5 separate regions of the Homo sapiens genome follow, and all the other regions are linked to region 1. Evidence: fine-mapped expression QTL. A gene starts in region 1. Each other region holds a variant in brackets. All regions are shown on one strand. Distances are from middle to middle.

The links.
Region 2: its variant is fine-mapped to the expression of AOAH in whole blood (TOPMed, PIP above 0.99).
Region 3: its variant is fine-mapped to the expression of AOAH in whole blood (INTERVAL, PIP 0.95).
Region 4: its variant is fine-mapped to the expression of AOAH in whole blood (TOPMed, PIP 0.99).
Region 5: its variant is fine-mapped to the expression of AOAH in whole blood (TOPMed, PIP above 0.99).

The regions. Positions count from the first base shown.
Region 1 is chr7:36,722,428-36,727,534 of GRCh38, forward strand. It overlaps AOAH (acyloxyacyl hydrolase), which reads right to left and starts at 2,067. Exons shown (of 21, transcript NM_001637.4): 1 at 1,595-2,067. The coding sequence starts at 1,721.
Region 2 is chr7:36,589,821-36,594,927 of GRCh38, forward strand. AOAH (acyloxyacyl hydrolase) reads right to left here. Exons shown (of 21, transcript NM_001637.4): 12 at 4,519-4,610. Among named protein-coding and RNA genes, the nearest start is that of AOAH-IT1, 7.7 kb to the right of the region's middle. The variant A/G (reference allele first, on the strand shown) is at 2,050.
Region 3 is chr7:36,572,550-36,577,656 of GRCh38, forward strand. It overlaps AOAH (acyloxyacyl hydrolase), which reads right to left. Exons shown (of 21, transcript NM_001637.4): 13 at 4,025-4,107. Among named protein-coding and RNA genes, the nearest start is that of AOAH-IT1, 25 kb to the right of the region's middle. The variant A/ATT (reference allele first, on the strand shown) is at 2,462.
Region 4 is chr7:36,540,069-36,545,175 of GRCh38, forward strand. It overlaps AOAH (acyloxyacyl hydrolase), which reads right to left. Exons shown (of 21, transcript NM_001637.4): 16 at 251-423. Among named protein-coding and RNA genes, the nearest start is that of AOAH-IT1, 57 kb to the right of the region's middle. The variant T/C (reference allele first, on the strand shown) is at 3,130.
Region 5 is chr7:36,519,999-36,525,105 of GRCh38, forward strand. AOAH (acyloxyacyl hydrolase) reads right to left here. Exons shown (of 21, transcript NM_001637.4): 20 at 2,041-2,117. Among named protein-coding and RNA genes, the nearest start is that of AOAH-IT1, 78 kb to the right of the region's middle. The variant C/A (reference allele first, on the strand shown) is at 2,091.

The DNA.
Region 1 (5,107 bases):
GTAAAACTGATTTCATCTGAGCTTTTCTCAAGTGTATTTCCATTTGATGGGCAGTAGGGTTTTGTTTTGAGAAAAATGAAAAGGTGGCAAATAGTTATTTAAGGAAACCAAATACTGGGGGAGGATGATCTCCCAGGCATGGTTCAAAGGACCACACACCTCTGCCTTCAGGTCTCTGGAAAATAGTCTTGGGGAATCTGGGTCTTAATTAAAACAAGACTTTGGAGGCTGGGCGCGGTGGCTCATGCCTGTAATCCCAGCACTTTGGGAGCCAAGGGGGGCGGATCACGAGGTCAGGAGTTCGAGACCAGTGTGGCCAACATAGGGAAACCCCATCTCTACTAAAAATACAAAAAATTAGCTGGGTGTGGTGGTGTGCATCTGTAATCCCAGCTACTCCGAAGGCTGAGGCAGGAGAATTGTGTGAACCAGGGAGGCAGAGGTTGCAGTGAGCTGAGACTGCACCATTGTACTCCAGCCCAGGTGACAGTGCGATAATCCATCTCAGAAAAAAAAAAAAAAAAAAAAAAAAAAGGACTTTGGAAGTAGAGATGCATCTCCTAACATGTACAATGACCTGAGGCCATGATTTTGAGGAAGTAGGACAAATTCAGATATATTTCCATATTGTCTCCAGAAACAATTCCTAAGTGTCAGAATCTGTGTCCAGATTTTCCATTTGCAGCATGTAGCCATCAGACTTATCCTAGAGTTATTTTCCTGGCTTCTCAAGCTAGGATTGTATTTTGAGGTCTGCTCATTGAACAATTACTTACTACTCAGAGTTCTGAGTCTATGTGGCTCCATGGACTGTACCATCTAAATGCCACCACTATTATGAGAATTCCCATGTTATGAGAGCTACAATGTGAATATCAAAGATCTTACCTTACTTCCTGCTCTCATCCAAAAAAAACAAACAAAAAAAACCTCTTGGAAATAAAACACTTCATTAACAGATGAGCCAAGAAGCCATATCAACGCTCAGCGTCTCCAGGTGATCGCCAAATCTGGATTCTCTGAGAGACGGAAGGAAGCTAAGATGGTTGAGTCCTTACTGTGTGCACATGCCACAGATTTACATGCATGGTCACAATTTCCATGGTATCCCTATGAGATGGGTCTCACTCACTTCAGTTCACCAATAAGGACACAGAAGCATGGAGAGGGTTAAGTACATTGCTCCAGGTTTCCACAGCCAGTAGGAAATGGGAGAGAAGGGTAGGAGGAGGGCAGTGATTCAAACTCAGATGTGTTTATATGAGGTCAAAGCCCATGAAAAGCAGTAAAAATTTCAGACTAAAATAGCCTGAAATAATAGTTACCTATACAAGAAGAAAAAATTCCAATCGCCAATGAGGTGGAAGAGTTTTATGCCCAATTTAAACTAGTATGCTTTTTATTCACATAGATGTATGTAGTGTCAATGTCTACTCTTAGACTCCACATTTCTCTGTGTCAGTGAGGTTACTGGTGCCTTACCTGGAATCTTACAATTCTTGATTTAATAAAATATGTGATTTATTACGCAAGCAAAGTACTGGATCCCATTGTTATGTCTACATAGAAAATACAAAAATATTTATTTGCATACCTACACAGGTGTGCCCATTCGAGAGGCTGGGCCTGGACTGGTCATCGTTGGCTGGAGAGGCCGAGGACTGAAGAGACAGGAGCAAGAATAGAGGCGCCACCGTAAGGATTTTCCAGGGGGACTGCATCTCCGAGCTATGCACCCCAAGTGATCACCCGGCTTTGGAAGCTCCCAACTGAGGGATGCTGGAGCTGAGGCTGCAGAATCAATTGATCTCTCTCTCCTTCTCTTCCTCACTCTCTTTGACACACACACCCCACCCTCTCACATACACACTTTTCAATAAGTGTGAAGTGAATAAAAGCACACATAAACACTCACAGACCCACAGCTTGCTCTTGTTGGACCCTGAGAGAGCCACACACAAAGAGCTGGAGGGAGTCTGTGGTGTGCGGTTCTGCTGAGGTAAAGACTGCAGGATAAAGAAAACCCAAGTTGCACAGTGGCACAACTTCCGTGCTCCCTGGCTCAGTGAAGTTAGTGTGCATAAACCCCGTGAGCCTCGAGGCTTGCCGGAACTGATCTGTTGGGTTGGTTAGGAGGCCCTTCCCCTTTCATTCTTGCAAAACAAAACAAAACGATACTAAAGCCAAAACTGAGAAGAAAAAAGAAAAAAAAAACTAATCCACAAGCACACAACCCTTTAACAATTTGATCAGCAGCACCCACATATTGTAGAAATTCTAATTGGTTACATTCAGAACTTACTTAGTCTTGTTTTCAACAGCTTTATATGGTAAGGTTGTGATCCTTATTTTGTTGTAAAAGGATATTCTGGTCAAATAATATCTTTCCTCTGGAGAAATTGGGTTATTCCTTGAAGGGTCAAGGCCTTTTATTTGGTGTGCAGAAAATAAACAGTACAGAAAATAATGGGCAGTTAGCATGGTGGGATTTTAGACCTAATGAGAAAAAACATGGGTTAGAATTAATCAATTCACAGTTGCTAGGCTGTGCACAATGCATCTTTTTTTTCTCCAGAATTTCGAAGTGCATTTTGTGGATGATTTGTTAAGAGACTGATTTTCTGCTCTGAAGAATAGAACTGAACACTGTCTTTCTGAGGGAAAAAAAAAATCGGAACCAGATCATAGATAAAAGACATATAATCTAAATGTTTCTCTCTAAAATAAGATAAAACAAAATCATATGCCATTCTCAGTCAAGATAAGAGGACAGGGCCAAAGTACCACAGTCTAGGTAAGTGTAGGAGGTCATGAGATTCTGTTTCTCTCTGCTTAGGCTCTGAGGGAGCTTATTACAAATTTTGAAATATTATAGAAGCTATCTAAATTGTTAGCAATTAAAAAAAATAGCATTTGGAGTAGCAGGCAAAGTTTTAGAGTAGCATCCTTTCCAGGATGTAGGAAATACCAGTTTTTATGGTTGGAAGATTTCTTGTGCAGTCATTAGTCTTACAAGCACCGATGGGGCTACAATTCCCAAACCTGCTGCAGAGATAGCACAAGTCAGAGTGTTTCCCTAATTACACTTCCAGCCCAATACTGAGGATATCGTTAGGCGTCCATGGGCCTGTGACTTCCTCTGACTCTAAGGTGCTGCTGCTTCAGTTCTTCACTCTGTGACTAAGGGGAGCTCTGGGGTCACTAGGACCACCACAGGGGTGAGGCCTAGAGAAGTTCCAGAGACTTCCAAGGGAGGCTAAATAAAGGACTGATTGATTAGGAACTCAGATTGTGAAGACAGAAAGGCTCATGCTTACGTCTCATGTCTACTGTTTATTCTGAGTAATATATTAGACCAGTGATGTAACTTTCCCCCCTTCAGTGTCTTGTTTTTGTTGTTGTTGTTGTTGTTTGTTTGTTTTTTGAGACAGGGCCTTGCTTTTTCATCCAGGCTGGAGTGCAGTGGTGTGATCACAGCTCACTGCAGTGTTGACCTCCTGGGTTCAAGTGATCTTCCCACCTCAGCCTCCCAAGTAGCTCATTTCTATTGGGATAATGGTAATATCCGCTCCAATGCGCTGCTGGAAGCACTCGAATACATGATGTATCCAAACAACAAAGCAGCATGGCTGGCAAGAAGTAAGTGCTTAGTGCATCTGTCTATGACTCTAGCAGGAGTGTGATGAAACCTGCACCCCAGACCAGCTTCAAGAGAATTCCAAGACGCCCATGGTAGTTGTAGGCCATCATGTCATACATGGGAAATGGTGAGGACAGGAAAAGGGAGGATTTATTGAATACCTTCCAGCTGTGCTACAGCACTCCAGGAGTGTGTGGTCTAGTTTGTCTAATCCATAAATGGGTGAGGACTCTCCTGAGGGCTTCTGGAAGAGCATTTGACACAGGCTTTGGGCCTCTTGAGGCTCTCCTGGTCTCAATGTATAGCTGCGAGCAGGTCTGGAAACTCTTAGAGTGAGAGGGATTTCTTGGTATGCCGGAAATGCAAGTTTTGTGCCCTTCATCGCATGTATGTGGGCCAGGCAGTGCCATTCACAACCATCCCAGGGATGGTCGGCTCTGAAACTCTCTAGTGTGCTCAGGCTTCGGGGCTGGTCACAGTGGGAGTCGCTGACTTAGCTGTGCAGTATTGAGCAAGCCCCTTCCTGTTTCCAGAGGTGACAGTCCTCAGCTAGAAAAGGGAGGTGAGACTATCTACTTCGTAGGAATATATCATGGTAAAACCTGACACATAGGTTTTCAGTAATGGAAGGATTTTTCATGCTTGGAGGGTGAGTTCTTACTGGGCATGATCAAAGGAAGAATGCAGAAATCAGAAAGTGATTTCGCCAGCAGAAGCTGGAACAAAGTGCACGTGTGCACAGACCACTGAACAAAACATCCCTCTCCGTCACCAGGATGGAGTGGACCCTCCCATTTGCACAGTTGTCCTTCACACTGGCTGGTATCATTGCCCCTGACAGGGCTGCCTTTGCTCATCAAGTACTGAGTGCAAATGACTTGGGATCTTTGCACAGCTTGCCAAAAGGCCCTGGACCTACCTGTGGTTTAGAACAACTAGTCAGGCCCTGGAGAATGTTCCTGCAGGACCCCACTGTCAGATGTTCCAATTTTGAATCATCTCGAAATCTGCTCTTGAAAATGAGATTTCTTCCCTGAAGCACTTTGTTACTGATTTCACTCAAACAGCTCTGATTCAAACCACTGCTTTCCCCTGTGCCATGGAAGGCTAAGGCTTTGTGATCCCCAAGTGTTGCACCTGTGGTCTGCTTGTTCAGTATGAATATGCTTCCTGAATATTTTTTGACCACATTGGCCTCAACCACCTCATCCACAGCAAGTTCCTTAATCAGAAAAAAAAAAAAAAAAAAAAGAGGTGGGTGATGGGAGATCCTGTAAAAGCTGGCACTGTCACCAACACGTGTCTCGTCTTAGACTTTCTCCTCTCTCTAAGGCCCAGGTCCATGCTGCCCTGTTACTCCTGGCTGCCCAGGACTGTGTACAGCAGTCCTCAGTTCCCATCTACCAAAACCAGGCCCTCTGCTGCTCCCCTCCTCCTCAGTCAGAGCTTATTAACGCTAGCCTCATT
Region 2 (5,107 bases), 130 kb before region 1:
TTCTACATGTGGTATTAGATCTTTGGTTTCTTTAATGTAAGTAGGATTTTCCTGTTATATGAATTGCTTTGGAAAGTGATCTGAACATGAAGTACAATTTTTAATCTTAATTTTTTTTACTTTTTTATTTTTACTTTTTTAAAGACAGGGTCTTGTTCTGTTGCCCAGGCTGGAGTACAGTGGCGTGATCATAGCTCACAGCAATCTCAGCAATCTCAAACTCCTGGGCTCAAGCAATCTTCCCGTCTCAGCCTCCTGAGTAGCTAAGGACTACAAGTACATGCCACCATGCCAGGCTAATTAAAAAAAAATATTTTTTTAGAGATGAGGTCTTGCTATGTTGCTCAAGCTGATCTCAAACTCCTGGCCTCCAGTAATCTTTTCACCTCAGATGCCCAGTAGCTATTTTTAATCTTTTAAAAATACTTTTTTCTTCCTATTTACAGTTATACTGCTCTATTGCCAAGCTCTTAACCCCCACAGAGATTTTTTTTTTCTGCTTTTGACCTACTCAATCTCTTCCTGAATCACACTGAAGAAAAATCCCAGTATATTTTTTAAGGGATATCACTTATTGAATTTTCTGAAGCCCAAGAGTCAAGAAAACAGTTTTTGTTAACATCAACTCAACTAAAAGAACTAAAGGTTTGTAAAACTAAGGGGTTATGTTTGTCATTTAATGCATGCACATAATTTCAATTAAAGTTATCTATGAAGGGGATAATAAATTTTGAGAGGACAAAGAGCATAAACAAAGAATGAAAGGGAAGGAGCCATTTCCTCTCCTGATGCTTTCACAAGGCACATTTTCCAAAGGACGCTGTTGACACCCATAGCAGAAGGCTGATCATGATGGTAGGAAGCGCATTCTGGAGATCCAGTTGAATAGAGAAATCCGCCAATTCTGTGGATAAGCATTTGGATTCAAAGGGCATGTGCCCAAAATGCCCATGGGAGCTGTATACACCTCTCAGAAGTGCTGCTTCTGGGTCAACATTCTTTTCATTTTCCTGATTCCACAAATGAGGACCTCCATCATATGCTAATCTCTTTGATATTTTTATATACTTTATAACTTTCTATTCCTTTAATAAGGAGATTGGCCTAGCACAAATTATCTGTGAATATAATTTATACAATGGTATATGGATACTTTAGCTGTAACTACTGCTGGGAGGGACATAGCAAATTATGATCCCACAGATGCAGTGTCATGCTGCCTCTGTTTCTGCTTAATGGGGGAATCCATTGCAACTCAGATTCCAAACAGAGAATTTCCTTTTCCATTAAAAGGAGTTGGTATATTCTTCTCCACTCCAGCTGAGTGGCAGCAAACACAGGCACAGTACACAGAAACAGCTGGCAAAAAGAGCATTCTGAGAGGAACAGCTAGGGAGCTTGGGGTCCCACAAACACATAGAAAGAAAAGTTCCTGCAGGGGAGGTGAACAACCAGCTGTGGTGTGTGCCTCGTTAGAAATACAACAGGTAAGGACAGGACTTAGAGTCAACACTAAGGAAGTTGCTTAAGCAGACTATGCGTTTTTTGTAAGCAGTAATAGAGAACCGAATATAAAAAGGTACTAGGTCAATAAAGACTAGCTCAGGATAGAGATGGTTTTCATATAAGCCACACCTAGATGGTCACTTACTTTGTGAGATGGTGTCAGAATTTCTCTGCATAATGCTTATAAGAGTTAGAAACCATTCATGTCTGAAGGCTCTCAACTTTTCCTCTTCCCCTTACCCCATTGCCATGCTTTGATGGAAGATCCTGTCTGCCTGCTGGGCACTGATCAGGATGATGGGTAAAAACTGCTGCAGGATTGAAGAGCTAGTGGGATTTTACATTGATAAGGGAGTAAACCCCTGGTGGGAGGACAGAACAGATGCAGAAAGGAAAAGGGAGCTTTCCCTCTCATCCCCCAATAGAAACTCAAAATGACTGAACAGAGTCTGTTTGGGAGAAGGAGCTAAGTGTGGGTCAAGTTTTGGGGAAGTTTAGATTTAGGAAATACAGAGCAACTACTGGTGTGTGCGAGCTGTAAGC[A/G]GAAAGAGATGAGGAAACATGTTTTTATCTGTTTGCTGGGCATGGTGAATGGATTCCTCTTTCATTCCTTGAGTGACTCCAGTAAAGATTTAAACTACTTGGAAATTAATTTTAAATATCGGATCGGTATTTCTTTTATGGCAACTTCATGGGGCCAAAAGGTAGTTGGGATTTATAGAGTCAATATGTAAAAATTTAAGCTTTCATTAAAGGTACAGTAAACTGTGTTCATTGTTCATACCTAATTAATTCTTTTTGTTATTGTCATAAAAGCCTTGATTGAGAGAAAATTCCAGATACTTTTATTGAGAAATGACTAGACTGGGTGGAGGGCATTTAAACATATATATTTTTTTATTTTCTGATGTTGAAATTGGGGGGATGACCAAGGTTCTCTCTTCTATAAACCTGCTTTGGCTGGGTTATCTCTGGATGTGTTCCAGGTAAAGACAACAGAGGCTGTAGCAGAGGGAAGATGGGACTGAGGCTAGGACTCAGAAAGTCCCAGATGTCTGTGCTTATTGGGACCCTAAGGAGGCATATGATGGGTCACTGAAATAGTGCAGGCCACACCTCTACATGGGGAGGACTTCTCTTGGTTCTTAGTCATTTCTCCATCCCATAGCTATGCTCTCACACAGAGGGACAATGGTTAGAGTGAGCCATATTCCCACACAAAGAATAAAAACAACACAAAGTTTGAGAGGCAAGAACATATCTTTGTTATGATATGACACAAGGTTCCATGAAAACAGACCCTACCACTCTTGGCTGGGCAACCTTGGTCAAGATTCTTATTCTGTCTATTTGCCCTTGGATCTCTCAACTGCAAATGCAGAGAACAATACCCACTACCTCACAAGGAGGTTAAATGAGAGAATATCTATACAACACTCAGTAAATGCTTGGCATATAGTTACTTGTTACTTCTCAAAGGTTACTTCTTACTATCCCTATTAGTAAGTATTTTAGTATTTTTACACTAATGACAAGGACTAGCCTTTTTTAAAATAACATGATTAAGTTTGAAAAGGTATAACTACACTGGAAAACACATCTCCTTGGCTTTCCCTATATTGGCAGATTATTTCTATGTAAATATGAGTACGCTTCCCTGAAGGTTAGTTCCCTTCCTAGTTTCTTCTATGCCCCTTTTATGACCCCAGTCTCCCATGTGTTACCCACCCAAAGGAAGTGACTGTTGATCACTTCCATGAACTCTTTTTCCTCGGAGCCCCGTGGCTCTGTAGGAGACCTGTCATTAGTATATCTTCCTTGCATTACCATTATTTGTTCACTTGTCTCATCTGCCTTAATTGCAATTGACTACAAAGATGGGACAAGCCCTATCTACCTTTAAATGGACACCTGTAACATCTGTGCCTGATTAGGTGGTTAAGTATTTAAGAAATATTTTTAAAGCAGATGAATAAAAATCATCAAATAAATTATTCATGGCACACAATGTTCTTTGTTCATCAGAATAATTGCTTGTTAAAATGATTAATGTCTGTCCTTTGGGGGCATTCCTGTTCCTTACAGATTTGGGTAAATCACACCCCATGCACACTTGCCCTCCTCACAGTTCTCATGGCTTATCTCATGGTGCTTTCCAGCCTTCTGCCATTTTTGCCTGAGTCAGAGAGGGGCTTCCTAGCTGGTTCTGTCCTGTCTTTAGACCTAAAAGCAAAGCTCTACCCTTTCTTCTTTTTTACACATGGAAGCCATTCATTTGCCATCTTCCTTGTGCCTATTAACTGTCATAAATGTTTAGGAGATGTTGGGAGAGAAATTGCCTCTCATATCTGTGACATTCTCCCATCCAAGTACTAACCAGGCCCTGCTTACCTTCCAGAGATCAGACAAGATCTGGTGTGTTCAGGGTGGGATGGCCATAGACTCATATCTGTGGTTTACTACCATGTTAGGGACACTTGCCAAGTTTCACCAGCATCACAGGTGTCCCTGCCAAGTGTGGGCCCTGGGAAGCAGACCCCAGGCCTTAACACCCAGGCATATGTAGTGAATTGGGTTTGTGTGTCATTCAAACTCACCAGGCCTGGTCTCTACCTACAAATCTGGGGCATTAAAGCCAGGATGATTCTAGGACTTTGAGAAGTGCCAATCAGCTTTGGCCATTATCTTTACAAATTTATTTCTGAGAACAAATAAGTAAACTTTGTTTTTCCTTGAATCAGAAAATTTCAGTGATGTGTTTAGTATTTTCCATCAGAGGTAAACTATGGAACTCCACCCCCACCCTGCCCATAGCAGGAATATGCTTTTCTTGCCAGTGCTGCTAAAATACAATTTGCATTACATCCTACTGTATGGTGGATGAACTCAAATTCATGTTCTAGAAGCAGTTCCTAATAATTCGCATTTCAACATCTTGGTAGCAACCCCCATCTCTTGTTCTTTCCTTACACAGAGGTATTGAAATGTCTGAGGGTGCACAAAGACACTTACCCAACAGTGGAGTCCAGAAATCCTGTAGCACCAGAGAGTTGGGGCCAGTCAAGCTCGTTGGTAAGGGCTGTTGGTAGATTGATGAAAGAGTTCTAAGGAAAACAATAAAGTAGCAATTATCAAAATGGTCATTTATTTTCTAAAGGTAGTAAGAAAATTCATGGCCTGAGTGTTGCTCTCTGTGTGTCTGTTTCCCACTCTCAATCTCTCGCTTTAAGGGCTTTTGGTATTCAAGGCAGATGTCTCTAACCTTCAACTTCATCAGGGAAGTCACAATGATCAGCACCACCCTTGACCTGGCTTCCGCTCAGCTCTTGTGAAACATGCAGAACATTTGGCATCTCAAACACTTGGGAGGGATGCTTCAGCAGACTAAACTTCCCATTCTTACATTTTCTGAGATTTTCTCCATTTTGCAGTTTAGGCCATCAGAAAGTCAATCATCTGAAAAGTAATTAATCTGAAAAATAATGCCTAATCCCTCAGAAAAAAATGCCTTCCCTGGGTTCAAAGCTATGGCCTTAAGGCATTAAGGTGGTGCCCTCTGACCTTCTTGGGGGTCTCAGACATTTTTGAGAATCTAATTGTG
Region 3 (5,107 bases), 150 kb before region 1:
GAAAGAAAAAACAAATGGTTTTCAAAACCACTGAGTAAATAATAATACAGTTGGTAGGTGGAATTAGCGACACTGTGTCAGTGGTACCCTGATGCTGGACATTTATGAAGCCCTGTGTTTCTCATTCAGTCTTCAGCAGCCCCATGAAGCTCAGGTATGTACCGTTCCCATCCCTGTGTGCAAGGTATGACATATCTGGTCAGTCACACACCAGGTTTTGTGATGAATTCCAAAATGTCACATGGCATAATTTAAATAACTGGCTTTAATGGAGAAAAGCTGGGTTTGCAAAAGATGAGAAGGTAGCTATCTCCAGCACTGCCTTATCCCACTGAGTTTGGGTGCAGCCTCTCCCCCAGGAGGATGGGGAAGATGGCCCATTCAAGGTGGTTTGTTGTCTGGGCAACCCTGAATGAGATCCAGGGTCACCTTTGGCAACTGTGCTCAATGAACCATGATCCCCATTTTACAGATGCAGAAACAGGCAAGAGACATTCAATGATTGGCCCAAGCCACACACTAATTCCAGGACCCAAATTCAAAACCAGTCTACTTTATACCCCAAGGAAAAGAGACAATTATATGAGGCAATCAGGAGAGGAAGGGCTCTGCTCTCTGTTTTCAGGGCCCTATTTTCCATCTTAGAGAAGGACCAGAGGAGCCAGCCAGCTCTGCAGTTCTTGGGTCCTTCCCTCTTCCATGTGCTGGCTGCCTCCCAACTCAGGCCATTTTGGTATCGAGGAAGTTCTGAGAGCCACTGCAAGCCCCTCCTCTGTTGATTGCAAAAAAGATTTGGCAGCACTCTTGCCATTCCTAACCCCTGCACCAGAGAATCATTCCCTGGATTAAAGATGACTTCTCCATTCTCCATTTTAAAATGCGTTATAGGGTCAGGCACAGTCACACGCCTGTAACCCCAGCGTTTTGGGAGGCCGAGGCTGGTGGATCACCAGAGGTCAGGAGTTTGAGACCAGTCTGGCCAACATGGTGAAACCCTGTCTCTACTAAAAATACAAAAAATAGCTGAGCGTGGTGGCATGTGCCTGTAATCCCAGCTACTTGGGAGGCTGAGGTAGGGGGATTGCTTGAACCCAGGAGGTGGAGGTTGCAGTGAGCTGAGATCGCACCACTGCACTCCAGCCTGGGCGACAGAGCGAGACTCTGTCTCAAAAAAATAAAAAAATGCGTTATAATCACTGACTGGGGTTCATGACAGAGTTATGTATAGACGTTTTTGAGATCTCTTACATAAGGATCAGGATGAAAATAGGAGCTGTTTCTTTAATTCTTACTACCCAATTTTTAAGAAACACTTTACTATTCTATTCAACTCTTCCCTTTTTCCCCTTTCTCTCTTGCTGGTTCTGAAAAATCAGTGTAGCCCCATAAATATGCAGAAAGTGAAAAGCTGACTTTTCCTATATCTAATAAAAACCTTGGAGAGTAATTGAAGTAATTTAGCATGGGTAGTCAGGTTACATTGCTGCGTAATATCAAAAGAAAGTCCATAGCAAGGAAATACAAGAGAAAATAGGAAGAGGGGCTGGAGAGTAAAACCAGAACATTAAATAATGAGTAACTGAGAAACTAAAAAAATATCTTTTTACTATTACAGTCTTAGAAAAATAGTCGAGGATAGTAATACTAGACAAAGTATACATTTTATGCATTTCTAAGGACTGCAAATTCAAAGAAAAGGAAGAAAATATCCCCTATTCCCCGGCATCTATTCATTAGACAAAAGTCTGACAAAAGCCACGGCCTTCGAGCACATTTTGACACGATTAGGCTCTCTTCCTGTCTCCTGTCTCCCCTTTTATCTTTGCAATCTGAATTTTAAAGGAGTGTTGTCAAGACAGGAGATCGCAAAAGGACAACCATTTACTATCAGGTGTCCTAGTTATACTTTTTGGATTATCTTACTCTGGTCTTTATGATTTTATGAAAGATCACTACATTTATTGTGGGTAGAAAAGTGATGTCGACTTTGCACACCTGGGTGTTGTGAAAGAGAAATGCTGGGTTAGAGTCACAAGTAACAAAGAGCAGCCTGCAGCCTGCATTTCTGGCAGAATCCTATCACTCAGTGTCTTACCCTAACCTCATACCTTTGGCTATGGAACCTTGGACAAGCCCTGTTCTACTCCTAGACTCAGTTTCTGTCGAGTTTTTTAAAGGTTATTTCTGTATACAAATAAAATCATCAGGAAACAGAAAAGCGGAAAAAAATGAAAGCGATCACTCGTAATTTATCAAACATAATGATTTTCTATATTTTCTACCAATCTTTCCTACGTATACCTTTTTTTTCCCTTTCTTTGAAAAATGTGGTAGAAACTAAACTGTATGATTGAATTTTATATCCTGATTTTTCTTTCGGCAGTGTTTTGTCTTTCCAAATAAAAATATATTTGACTTTTAGCCATCATTTTCTAGGGCTGCATGATATTCCTCACAGATG[A/ATT]TTTTTTTTTTGTGCTTTGTTTTTTATAATCTTCATTGACAGAGGGTATTTGACAGTGTTGGGGGGCTGTTTCAGTATGTCACTAAAGGAAAAAGAAAGTGCAGCCACACACCTGATGTTCACTTTGTATCTGTGATGAGTCACATGGCCAGATTTGACTGTAACTGTCCATTAACTATTGATAGTGTTCAACTTGCAGAGGGATGAGGCCGATCTCTTTCTGCAGATCATCTGGGATCATAGCCCAATGACTGTATTATCTTTGTTGGTATCTGAGTGGAGTGAGACAACGTGGGTAGAAGTGTCTCCTCTGTAACTTACTATCTGTGTGGCTGAGGAAGAGAGTCTTGGTTTCTCCATGCCTCCATTTCCCCAGCTGCTACGGTGTGAATATTATTTTAATGCCCAATTCTGAGAAGTATATTTTAACGCATTTGGTATTGAGTTGAATGCTGCAATCAATGGGAACATTGTAATTTTTCCTTCCTTTTCCCTCCCTCAACACTCCCTAGAGCTATTACAATCAATAGTATTAGTACTGAAGAAATTTAATAATACTTGCCTTACAATGTCTGTTGTTGAAAGGATTAACAGAAATAAACATAAAGTGTTCTTAGCACTTGGTAAGAGCTCAGTTAATGGCAGCAATTATTTTATTAGTAAAAAAAATCTATATTGTTCTTAGAAGAGGAGAGCATTTATTCTGTATAGAATATTTATTATAAGAAATACATTATTTGTAGGTCACATACTTAGTTTAAACGCTTGTTGCTTGGAAAATTCCTCAACATCTTTTGTTAATTAGAGATAGCACAGGGATGGCAAATAGGTTTAACTTCATGTGCCAAGCCTAATTTGTTGATGATGATTGTCAGACGTGCTGTGTTTCGAGAACTGCTGAGGCAGAATCTGAGCATAGCAGACAAGAGTGCCAAGGCTGATTAGCAATATCTTTCCCAGGCTTAGGAAGACAGAGTGGCAACACATACACTGTTTACCATCTCTGCATTATGGTGTTACAAAACATTCCTTGGCAATTCATTAGGCATTAGCCAGGCCATGGCTTATCAATCAGAAGTTTCATCAGAATCTTGTGGCAATAGACCGCCTCCAGGTCCAAGGTGGAAGATTGAAACCCACACAGGTGAAACTGAAAACTCCAACCCCAGCAGAAACGTGGGAGACTTTGCACCATCAGAGAGGGCAGAGCTTTTGCGATGACCTTAATTTTTCTCAGCTCTTGTTCTGCTAATGCTCATTTAGGTCTTGCCTCCTGAGCCTCAAACATCCTGTGCCTTGGCCTTGCTAGAACTTTGCTGTTGGGTGAATGATCTGCTCTCTTGGTCAACCCCTTGACTGCAGCTTGTTTTTGTTCTCCTTTGCTGTGGGTAAATGGCTTTAAGCACAGGGCCCTTCTTTCAGAAAGGGCAATGGCATTGGAAGGGAGACCGTTCATTTTATTCTGTGATCCTTGTTATCTGAATCTCAGCTTTTGAGGTACTTATGAAATAAACTCAATCATTACAGGAACATTGATGAAGGCTTAAATGGAAAGTTACGTACCATTTCTTGAAATATTCTGGTAGTCCCTGTGATTACAGTGGTTTCTTTTCCATAAGCGAAGGTAAATAGATTTTTCTTTAATTCTGAAACAAATATATATGTATATATTTAAGGTCAGGATACTCACATAAAGAAGTTTAAACAAACCATGTTTACATCACGCTTTTAAAAAAATATGGTTAAAATGAACTCAAAAAATCAAATCTCTGCTGACAAGTTTTCTCTGAACTGTGAATGTAATATTGGCAGTTGTTATGAGAAGCAGTTCTATGAAATTGAGTTGTATGGGTGTCGTAAGAATACTGTTGAAGACATAAAACTTTTTCTTTTGTACAAAGACCTCCAGAGTCATCCCTTTCAAATGCTTTTTACCAAGAGCTGCTGTACATTTCTTGAGCAATTGCTCACCTTTACCGACTCTGTTATTTTGAACCTGATCATGTTGCCTTTCTTTTTTTTTTTTTTTTTGGTTGCTATGAAGCTGTGGTTGACACTATTATTGTCCTTCAGCTTTATTCTCCCTTCATGCACTACAATAGAATTTTTGCTACAATAGAATTTATAGAATTTTTAGCAAGACCCATGTCTGTCCAGAATGAGGATTGCGTTTTCCAGCTTCTCTTGCAGCTAGGAGTGGCACATCACTAAGTTCTGGGTGAGATGAGATGGGATCAGAACTATCCAGTGGCAATTTCTGGTAACGCTTCTTAGGAAATGATTGAATGGTGATTCTGGTTCCTTCTTTGTACCCTTTCTCCAGTCTCCTGCCCAGAATAGGAAAGCTGCCATCTTAAACTATGGGAATAAGGTTGACGTTGAGAAGGCAGAGGGGTGAGCTGGAAGGAGCCTGGATCCCTGAGAACTGGGTGGAGTTGAGCTCCCATATCAATTCCAGACTGCACATTTTCTAAACCTTTCTGTGTGAGAGAAATAAACTCATATATGTTGAATCTCTGTTCCTTGAATCTAATACTAATAAACACAGAGCTTACGGAAAAATTTGACACCAGTATCAGGCTATAATTATATATATTTTAACTCATTTTCTTGGCTCCTTTTTGTCTCATCTTTGATTTTTCATTT
Region 4 (5,107 bases), 180 kb before region 1:
AGCACTTACCTTTCAATGTGTCCCAATTCTTCATGAATTACTTCTGCCCTTTCTGCCTTTGGATCTGATTCGGCTCACCTCTGGATAATGACCTTTAGATACTGCACCTAGGGGCTCTTGCCTTTATCAACCCTGACCCATGTTCCATGATGGCATTTTAGGCACATTTCTATATGGTTTGAACCATATATACATTGAACTGTATATACATTGATGTTATTAAAGAGTAAAAGAATCTTCAAACTGATACCGAGAGGATGATATCTGTTGTGCAAATTATCCCAGAGAAAGGTTCCATCTGGTAAGCCATACAAAATAACATGGCTGCCATTGGGCAGGTGGGAATTTAGATGCTTCAGAGTCTGCATGACGTTGGAGTAGAGTTTCTCAGGAGTGGTCATGGCTGGGACTGGGTCACTCTTCCTGTTGGTGGAATAAACAGAAAATATCTTGGTTGATTGTAAGGATAGATGCATGCAAGTTGCACGCAAATACAAGATACATCACACACACATACGCACACACACACACACAGTGTGGTGGTCATTGGAGCTATTTGCAAAATATTCCTGGATTTCCACCTTTCTGACACATAGGCTGTACTTACTGACTCCCTTGCGGTTGAGTGGACTATGTGACTAGTTCTAACCAATGAGTGGTGAGCTGAAGTGACATGTGTCATATTTGGTGATGTGACACCTTCTAGAATGCTCCTTTTCTTTGCATGGGTATAGGCAATGTTCTAGATAGCTGCTTCACCAATCTGAGTCCTGGAACAGAGTCCCATGGTGATCTCTGATGGACAAGTAGTGTGAGAGAGACGTAAACATTTGTTGCTTTATGCTACTAAGATTTTAGGGGCTGTTTGTTCCTTTGTTCCTGTAGCATAAACTCGCTGGCCTGACTTACACACAGTTTTTGAAATGAAAGGGGTCTGGTATTACTTATGATTTATTTGACACTTCGAGGTCTATAACTTGGTCTTTAAAACTTTTCACATGTATAACAGTTAGAAAACAGAATCTTACTGATTAAGTTATATTATACGTCCACACTGTATCTTGCTCTTTATCCTTCCATTTCTACACTGGATTTGGACTTGCATGCATTTCCTGATGGATTTCTATTCCAGGCTATACCCTGCAACAGCATTTCACAACAATTCCAGCCCGCATTATTGTCTTTATATAGTAGTGCTTGTGCTCTATAGAGGGTATTTGAATTTTTAAATTATATTTTCTCTTCTTATTTCATAAAAGTTAGTAAAATAAAAAAAGAAAGTACTGAAAGTAGTTATGAGAGACACAGGCCTAAAATCAAAGCATGTCAGACAAAGGTGAAGCTCCTAAGTGAGCTGAAAGTGACGAATCTTTACCCTCAATCAGACATTTATTGAATTTAAGCTGATTGACTTATATTCATTTGGTTTGGAAAAGAAGTAAGGAATGTACAAAATACTACAAGACATCATTTGAAGTTATGTTAAAATTGCACTCATTGGTTGATTTAAAGTTATGTTTGGGTGCTATGCTCACCACCTGGGTGATGAGGTAATTTGTACTCCAAACCTCAGCGTCGTACAATAATATATCCATGCAATGAACTGGCACATGTACCCCCATATCTAAAATACAAGTTGAAATTATTTTAAAAAGCTATGTTTAAAAGGCAAGGGGTGCTAAAGTATTTTTGGCATTAATATAAGTTTATTATTGTTCATTTCTTTGTACAATTGACTTTTGCACACACCTTCAGGAACACAACAAATTTGGATTCGGATCCTAACCTGCATTAACTTGGGAGTAGAATACAGAATTTTCTAGAGTTTTCATCTACTCTTTACACTCTAACTGCCTGTCTTTACCCTAAATGGAATAATGCTACAGTGTTACTTTCTCTTTTGTGTACTTAAAATTCCAGTTTCCCTAATGATAGTGGGTTAAATAGTGTCCCTAAAAATGTGACATTACTTGAAAATAGGGTCTTCATGGTTGTCATTAGTTAAGATGAGGTCATGTTGGATTAGTGTGGGCCTTAAATTCAATGACTGAATCCTTATAAGAAGAGGAGAGGACACACAGACATACACCAGGAGGAAGGCCATGTGAAGACAGAAGCAGACACTGGGGTTATGGCTGCCACAAGCCAAAGAGTGCTGAGGATCGCTGGAAGCCACCAGAAGTGGGAAGACAAAAGGAAGGATTTTTCCCTGGAGCTTTCAGAGGGAGCATGGCCCCACGGACACCTTGATCTTGGACTTTAAGCATCCAGAACTGAGATGGAATACATGTCTGCGTTTTGAGTCATCCAGTTTTGGTACTTTGTTATGGCAGCTCCAGGGAACTTAATACAGATTGTGAACCAGATAAAATAAGTCCATCACTCAGAGGCTGGACCCAGGGCATAAGTGATATGGGAAGAGGGGGCAGAAAGGGGCCCCCAGGGATCCATAATTCTCATTTTTAAGGGAGCTCATAAATGAATATTGGCACTGCCTTTTCGGAGGGCAATTTTTCAAAATGTATCCAAATTTGAAGCTGGCTTAACTTTTGACCTTGGAATTTCACTTTCAAGAAGTTATCCTATAGTAACATTTCCACCAATGTGCAAAAATGTACATACGAATATTGTAATGTTGCTTGGTATAGTGTACCACTGGAAAAAGATAAAAGCCTAAATACATAAATTATGGTACACCCATGCAATAGAACTCTATATAGCCATTAGGAATATAATAACTAGATATCGTTGGTTGCACAACATTGTGAACTGGAAATGCCACTGAATTTTTGCTTTAGAATGGTTAGTCTTACATTATGTGAATTTCACCTGAATAAAAAAAAAGAAGTAATTTGTATGTATTAATATAGAAAGATGGCTAAAAAGTATTAAAGTATTGTTGACTACAACAATACTTTTGGTGCCATGGGGGTAGCCAGTAGGGTGGCAGTTATGGTTGGTGTATGTGCTTCTAAACTATGTCATGGATCGCTAGAGTCTCTTAAGGGGGGAGAGAAAAAGATGTCTAATTTTACAAACCCTCAGGGTATAGAACTGCATGCTAATTTCATGTTTTCCATTGTCATGAAAAAATTACACTATTTTAAAAATAAAAATCTTCCTACCTGA[T/C]AAAAACCAGCTATGACGATTTGCGACTAGGTTGCCTACCTACTAGAGCAGAAGCGTGGGGAGGGGCTTTGACTTGATTCCCATATGCACAGAAGCAGCACTGAAGAACCTGCCCCAAGTATCTAGGTTCTATATTCACTGTGTGTTTGAAGTGTAACAGCAAGGGTGAAATGAAAGGCAAGTTGGGTGTCTATATCCTTTCTTCTGGCACTGGTAAAGCTGGCAAATACTGCCTATTCACTTTTGCCTTGCCACACTTTTTTTTTTCCTGCTGATACAGCCACGCTTTGGCACAAAGCAATTATGCTGAGCTAATGTTCTCCAACCACATAAGGGCAAGATGAGTTAAGATGGACAAAGTCTCCCCAAATCCACACTGAATAATTTTTTTTTTCGGTTAGAGGCACAGCCCTGATGCTAAACGAAGAATCTGAGCTAATTTGTATTTATGAAAGGGCACCCACAAATTAAGCAAGCATAATCAACATGGCTAATTGCTAAGTGAAATCAAAATATAAGCCTTGGTGTTGCTAATGGAACATTCTCCAGTTATCTTTGTTCCACCTTGTACAACTACATAATTTACTTTTAATTTGCATAGCAAAATCAACCAACTCTTAGCTCAGGTAAGGGCAAGGGAGTCTATGTGATTCATGGGACGATCACCCCTCCCAGATGCCATAGAAGGTGGCTTTTGACTTCTGTCCCTGAAAAGTTTTCTTTTCTTTTTCTTTTTTCTTTCTTTCTTTCTTTTTTTTTTTTTTTTTTGAGATGGAGTCTCACTCTGTTGCCCAGGCTGGAGTGCAGTGGTGCGATCTCGCTCACTGCAACCTCTGCCTCCCGGGTTCAAGTGATTCTCCTGCCCCAGCCTCCCAAGTAGCTAGGACTACAGATGAGCACCACCACACCCAGCTAATTTTTCTATTTTTGGTAGAGACAGGGTTTTACCATGTTGGCCAGGATGGTCTCAATCTCTTGACCTCGTGATCTGCCTGCCTCAGCCTCCCAAAATGCTGGGATTACAGGCATAAGCCACTGCGCCCGGCCCCCTGAAAATTTTTCAATGCCATTTTGATCTGTGTACTTTTTCCCCTCTGGTGATGTTTGGGGGAGACTTTGTGTTAGTATTCTGGAGACCAAAGAACCCTAGTGGTTGAGAACTATCTCCTAGGTCTCTCTGGTGTCTGCCAAAGGACGAATGGGCTGAGCTGAAGGTGTCTAACCCTTTTCAACCCAGGTGTCCCAGGCACCTGCCACCCCGGATTTGTCTGCCGACTCCAGGGTCCCAGCACCCCTTCTCACACACCAGCGAGCTCACCCCAGACACTCAGATGCATAGGTGAGAGATCGAGAGTGCTCAGCTAACAGAGAAGATGTGAAAACCAGCCTGTGGCACAGGGGCCACACTGGGGAAAATAATGAGAGAGAAACTGGTGCTCACTGACATGCTCTCACACATGTCAGAAACAAATGGCCGGGCTGGGAACAGATGAAGAGCCTCACTCCTGAAGGTGGCTCTGAAGCCTGTCCCGCCCTAATGAATTGTGTCTGATCAGGCAAAATAAGCCTGATCATTTCATTACCCTGGCAGGTAAGCCAGCCAGATTTCACCTGGCTGGTGCTAGAGAGAGGTGTCCCTTCCAAGGAAGAAACTGATCAGCCTGTGCAGAAAACCAGCTTCCTGGAACCATAGCTAAAGCCCAGATCACTGTAGTGATCAAGTGCTCACACCTCACTCACAGCTAGCATTTGTGTTTTTGAAACACCCAGGTAAGAGGGTTAGCCCTTTTCTTCATGCCAGCCAGTTGCAATCACATTGTTGGGCTCCCATCCAATCCCCTTGAAGAGAAATCTTTTTTTTTTTTTTAAATAGAGACAGGGTCTCGCTCTATCACCCAGGCTGGAGGGCAGTGGTATGATCACAGCTCACTGCAGGGTTGAACTCCTGGGCTCAAGCTATCCTCCCACTTTAGCCTCC
Region 5 (5,107 bases), 200 kb before region 1:
ATAGGCAGGCTTTAGGCCTGGCTATCCATTTTTGGCCACTTTATCACTGGCTACCAGCATGTGAACAAGTCTTGCAGGAATAGCATAAGATTATGGCACACATTGATTTTCAGCTTTTGACTGTGTTTTCAATAATCAGATATAGGTGAAACTGTTTAAGTACAAGATAGAGGCCCAATTTGACAGACTTTGAACCCCAAGATCATTTTAAGAGTCAGGGACGGAATGGTCATTTGATAGATGGGATAAATATATCCTGGGGGATAAAACAAAGCTGTCTTTGATCCTCCTCTTTTTAGTTTGTTCCTGATACTTTACATGGCCATCTTTTCATATACCCATTGTTTACAGAATCAGAAGGGTAAGATGCTATTCTGTGCAGAGAATGATAAGAACTAGTACCTAATAACTGCTAGAAAGAAGGGGGCCGGGCGCAGTGGCTCACGCCTGTAATCCCAGCACTTTGGGAGGCTGAGGCGGGCAGCTCACCTGAGGGTGAGAGTTCGAGACCAGCCTGACCAACATGGAGAAGCCCCGTCTCTACTAAAAATACAAAATTAGCCAGGTGTGGTGGCGCATGCCTGTAATCCCAGCTACTCAGGAAGCTGAGGCAGGAGAATCACTTGAAACCAGGAAGCGGAGGTTGCGGTGAGCGGAGATCACACCATTGCACTCCAGCCGGGGCAACAAGAGTGAAACTCTGTCTCGAGAAAAAAAAAAAAAAAAAATAGAAAGTAGGGATATACACAAACTCTTCTAAAACCAAAGACATCATTTTTGGGGGATCAGACCCTGATATTTAACCAGAATCTAGCCAATAATTTTCTTTGATCAACTCATCCAACTGATACACAGGAAGGTTAGAAATTCTGAGGGCATTATTCTGATTTTTTGTGTGTGGCTATTTAAATCCGTGAGGTGGGCATTTAATACTTACTTTAAAATTTGCTCAGCATTTGTGGGACGCCACTTTTACTCATTTGTTGGGGAGTGAGCATCCTTCTATTCTTGTTCCTTTTGAGGTGATTCTTAGCCCTGCCTGTGAGCACTGGCTGAGCCTAGAGTTGGAGGAAGGTGGGCTGTGTTTACCGTCATTCAGGCTCTTGAGGGGACAATCAGCCCTCCTGTGGCCTAGGTCTTGGTGGCCAGCAAGCGAGCATCCCCCAGGCATGCTCCTCAGGTTTGTACCCTTTGGTAGCCACACCATGCTTCCCCCACGGCTGGAGCAGAAAGGCTCTAGTGATGTGGTATTGCCTGAGAGTAAATGGCCCATCCCTCCCCATAGAGGAGCAGCTTTCAACATTTTACAAGTGGCAGAACAACTCCCCCACTTCTTTTTCTTCTTCTTCTTAATAAAGAAATGTCGTGAGCAAGTCCAGGACATACAACAGATAAAAGTGGAGCTTCTCTGGTTGAAGCCAGGATAATGGGATGGGAGTGGAGCCGGGAGGGGACAGAGTCCCACCCTCTGGCTCCCCTTGCTTTGTGAAGAGACCAGAGGAGAGCTACTTTACAGAACTGTACTTTGGATCCTTGATGAGAAACAGCTCTTACTGCAGGATACTGCTAAGGACATTGTTCTCCTCCTATACAGCACCCTTTCTAGAAAGACCATAGAATAAATTTCTCATGGGTCTCACTTCCAAAAAATCCTCGTCATTTTCCTCCTTTTCTTTCTTCCTTTTTTTTTTTTTGGAGTGCTTGATTTATTTTTCTTGTATTATGGAAGCCATGGCTTACTGCCCCTTTTAGCATCGCACAGAGCTGCCCTTCTGGCAGTTTCTCAGGAATGCCCTGCACATATTTTATGAATTATAGAAATTAAATCAGGAATCCAGGTATAATTTCTACTTTATTTCCCTATTGTCCCAAATTTCACTTTGTTTTTATTAAATCTTCTATCCTATACATGTATGTACACTACCTCAAATCCTTTCTGGAACAAAACAGGATAAAAATAAACACATGAATGTGTAACCATAATTAAAAACCAACAAACCATCAAATAGCCTTCTGCAGCCACCATGTGACTGTGCTTACCTCGTTGGGGTGGAATCCATCCACGGGCTCGATGAGCTGCCAGGGCTGTC[C/A]GCCTCTCTTCTGCCACTCCTGTATGACTGCAGGGCACATAACGAGAGGGTTACAGACACACTTGCACAAGCAACGGCCAATATCCAAGGACAAGGACGTGAGAACTGCCCATGCCCTCCCGGGCCCATGTTGACCAAGCCACGGCTGCCTCTGAGCTGCTCTCTTGCACTGGGGGATTTCTGAACAGAAATGATCTTCCCGCTGTGTGTGTGCTTTTTCTAACTCAGGAAGGGAATACGTGAGAGCATTGGATGAATGTGGTTTGTGTAGCAGGGAGGGCAGTAGGAAAAGGTGAGCTCTAAAATAGTCAACATCTATTTCAGTACATGTCATTTTTTGGTGGTGCAGTAGGATGGTATTACAGTAGGGAAAAATCCAACATTTTGTTAACATCCCCTTTCATGGGTTGCCATTTGCAGACTCTGCCTGCATGTGTCAAGCACTTGCCTTTAAAAATCATACAGTATGTCAGGAATATAATTACATAAAATTATCTCATCGCCACATTTGGAGGGAGTATGGCTGCAGAAAAAATATTACGAGCCCCAGAATGATGAAAAGCAATGAAACTGTCCTTCAACAGGGATGAGAGACCAAGAATGTCAGTTGCTCCAAGGCAACAGCACAATTAACTCTACGTCATTCCATCATACAGTCAGTAAGAACTCCTCAAGGAAACTTCAAATCCCTAGGAAGCCTCCGGAGAGCAGCATCTGAGCCAGCTGCTCCCGGCAAAGCTACGCCCTCACTTGCCCAGCGTCCAGTGAGGGGGGCAGGCACAACTAAGATTCCTCCCGTTCTTTACTCTTCATTCCCCAGAAAACTCAAGAACATAGGTCTGTGACCTGTTTCTCCCCTTCTCATCCCAAAGGAAGGACGGAAATTCTGTCAGGGGCTTTGATTGGACAAGACGGGCTGGACTTCCCAGGGCTGGGTCAATACAAGGCTGCTTTTACAATTAGTCCTAATATCCCAGCATGGCATCCCCACTTACTACTCAACCTCCATTCCCCAGGGGCTGAGGATAATGCTGCCCTTCTCAAAGCTCAGGAAAAAAATTCATACTGATGGTTTGGAGTCCTACACACTGAATCGCCAGCCCCTGTTAGCTTATTCTCTGGCAGAAAGACTGCCCCTGAGACACAGCATCATATTATGCTTCTGGGTTTTACTAGAGGCTGTTGGAAGAAATAGCTATTGGTAAGTGGCCTCTGCATTTCTTGAAAACTCAAATTGAGGACACTGTTCACTGTGTTATATGGTGTCCGCCACACAGAGTCTCCAGGGAGAAGTTGTGGCGTGCTGGTAAATAGCACTTCTATCTGAAGGAATGGTAGGTACCTGCTCTTCTAATAGGAAGCTCAGAGCTGCATCGATGCTTAAACAGCACTCACTCTCATGAAAGTTTATTTGTTCTGCCAAGCCAGCATGCAGCTTTCAACAATTTCTTTCTTGCCCTTGGCCATAGTGTCTTGTAAAGGCACAGTTTTGGGGAAGCTTGCCTGGCTCAGTCTTCAGTTTGCCTGGCCTGTTTTGCCTGTTTTTTTTTTTTTTTTTTTTGGCATGTCCTTGGAATGCAACCTTCTTCTTGAGGTTCAATTCTAGCTGCCTCACATTTCCCTCTGGACTTGACACTCTGAAGCTCCTGTGGGTTCCAGACTGCCCTGCTGGCTGCGATGCTGGCCCTGCCTGCTCATGAATGCTATCCAGCCCATCCCCTGCCATTCCCAATCTGAACATCCAACAAATTGCCATCAATGGAGAACCAGCCATCTGGAAAGATTTCTTCAAATGCAGAGAGCCAGGATCACCACCACTGAGCCCTCTCAGTTCTCTTTGTCCTTTTATGGTCTTTGTCCCATCTCTCCTTGCAGTCCCACAGGAGTCTCTCAAACAAAAATCAGCAACGATGCAGAAAGGCCCGGGCCAGGTGAAATGTCAGCCTCCCCATCCCCTCCGTGACTTCAGAGATGACATCATCTCCATTCTACTTGTGCTCCTTTTTGCTTCACCAAAGTTCTTGATTAACGTTTTGTCCCTTTTCCCACTTTTCCCTTTATTTTTATTTGGGTTTCACCTTATGTTGTACAGATGCTAACAGAAGAAAGAAAAGAAAGAATGAAAGACAATCGCAACAGGGTGTTGCACGGACTGAATGTTTGTGTCCCTTTCAAATTCCTGTGTTGAAACCCTAATCCGCAGTATGATGGCATAGGTAATTATTCCGTGAAGATGGAGCCCCCATCATGGAATTCATGCCCATGAATTCACACCCAGCCAGGTGCGGTGGCTCACACCTGTAATCCCAGCACTTTGGGAGGCCTAGGAGGGTTGATCACAAGGTCAGGCATTCGAGACCAGCCTGGCCAACATAGTGAAACCCCGTCTCTACTAAAAATACAAAAGAAAACCTAAAAAAAAAAAAAACAAAAAAAAATTAGCCAGGTGTGGTGGTGGGCACCTGTAATCCCAGCTACTCGAGAGGCTGAGGCAGGAGAATCGCCTGAACATGGGAGGCAGAGATTGTAGTGAGCCAAGATTGCGCCACTGCACTTCAGCCCGGGAGACAGTGTGAGACTCTGTCTCGACAATAAGTAAATTAAAAGATAAATAAATCAAATAAAATGCACCCCAGAGGGCTCGCTCACTCTTTTTTTTTTTTAAACCATGTGAGGATATGATGAGAAGTTGGCAGTCGGCAACACGGAAGGGGACCCTCACCAGAACCTGACCATGCTGGCATCCTGATTTTAAACTTTTAGCCTCCGGAACTGTGAGAAATAAATTTTTGTTGTTTATAAGCCACCCAGTTCATGGTATTTTATTACAGCATTCTGAGATAAGACAGTTATTAAAAAATTCCCAGGTATGCTAATAACAGCAGGCCAATGGGAATTGAGCCTCATCAAGACTTCAGACAGAGCCTACTAAAAAGTTGTGAAGAGTTGGATGAATAAGACATGAGGCAGAGTCCTCTTGTAATAAATAGATGCACAGCAAACCATGGACCTGACCT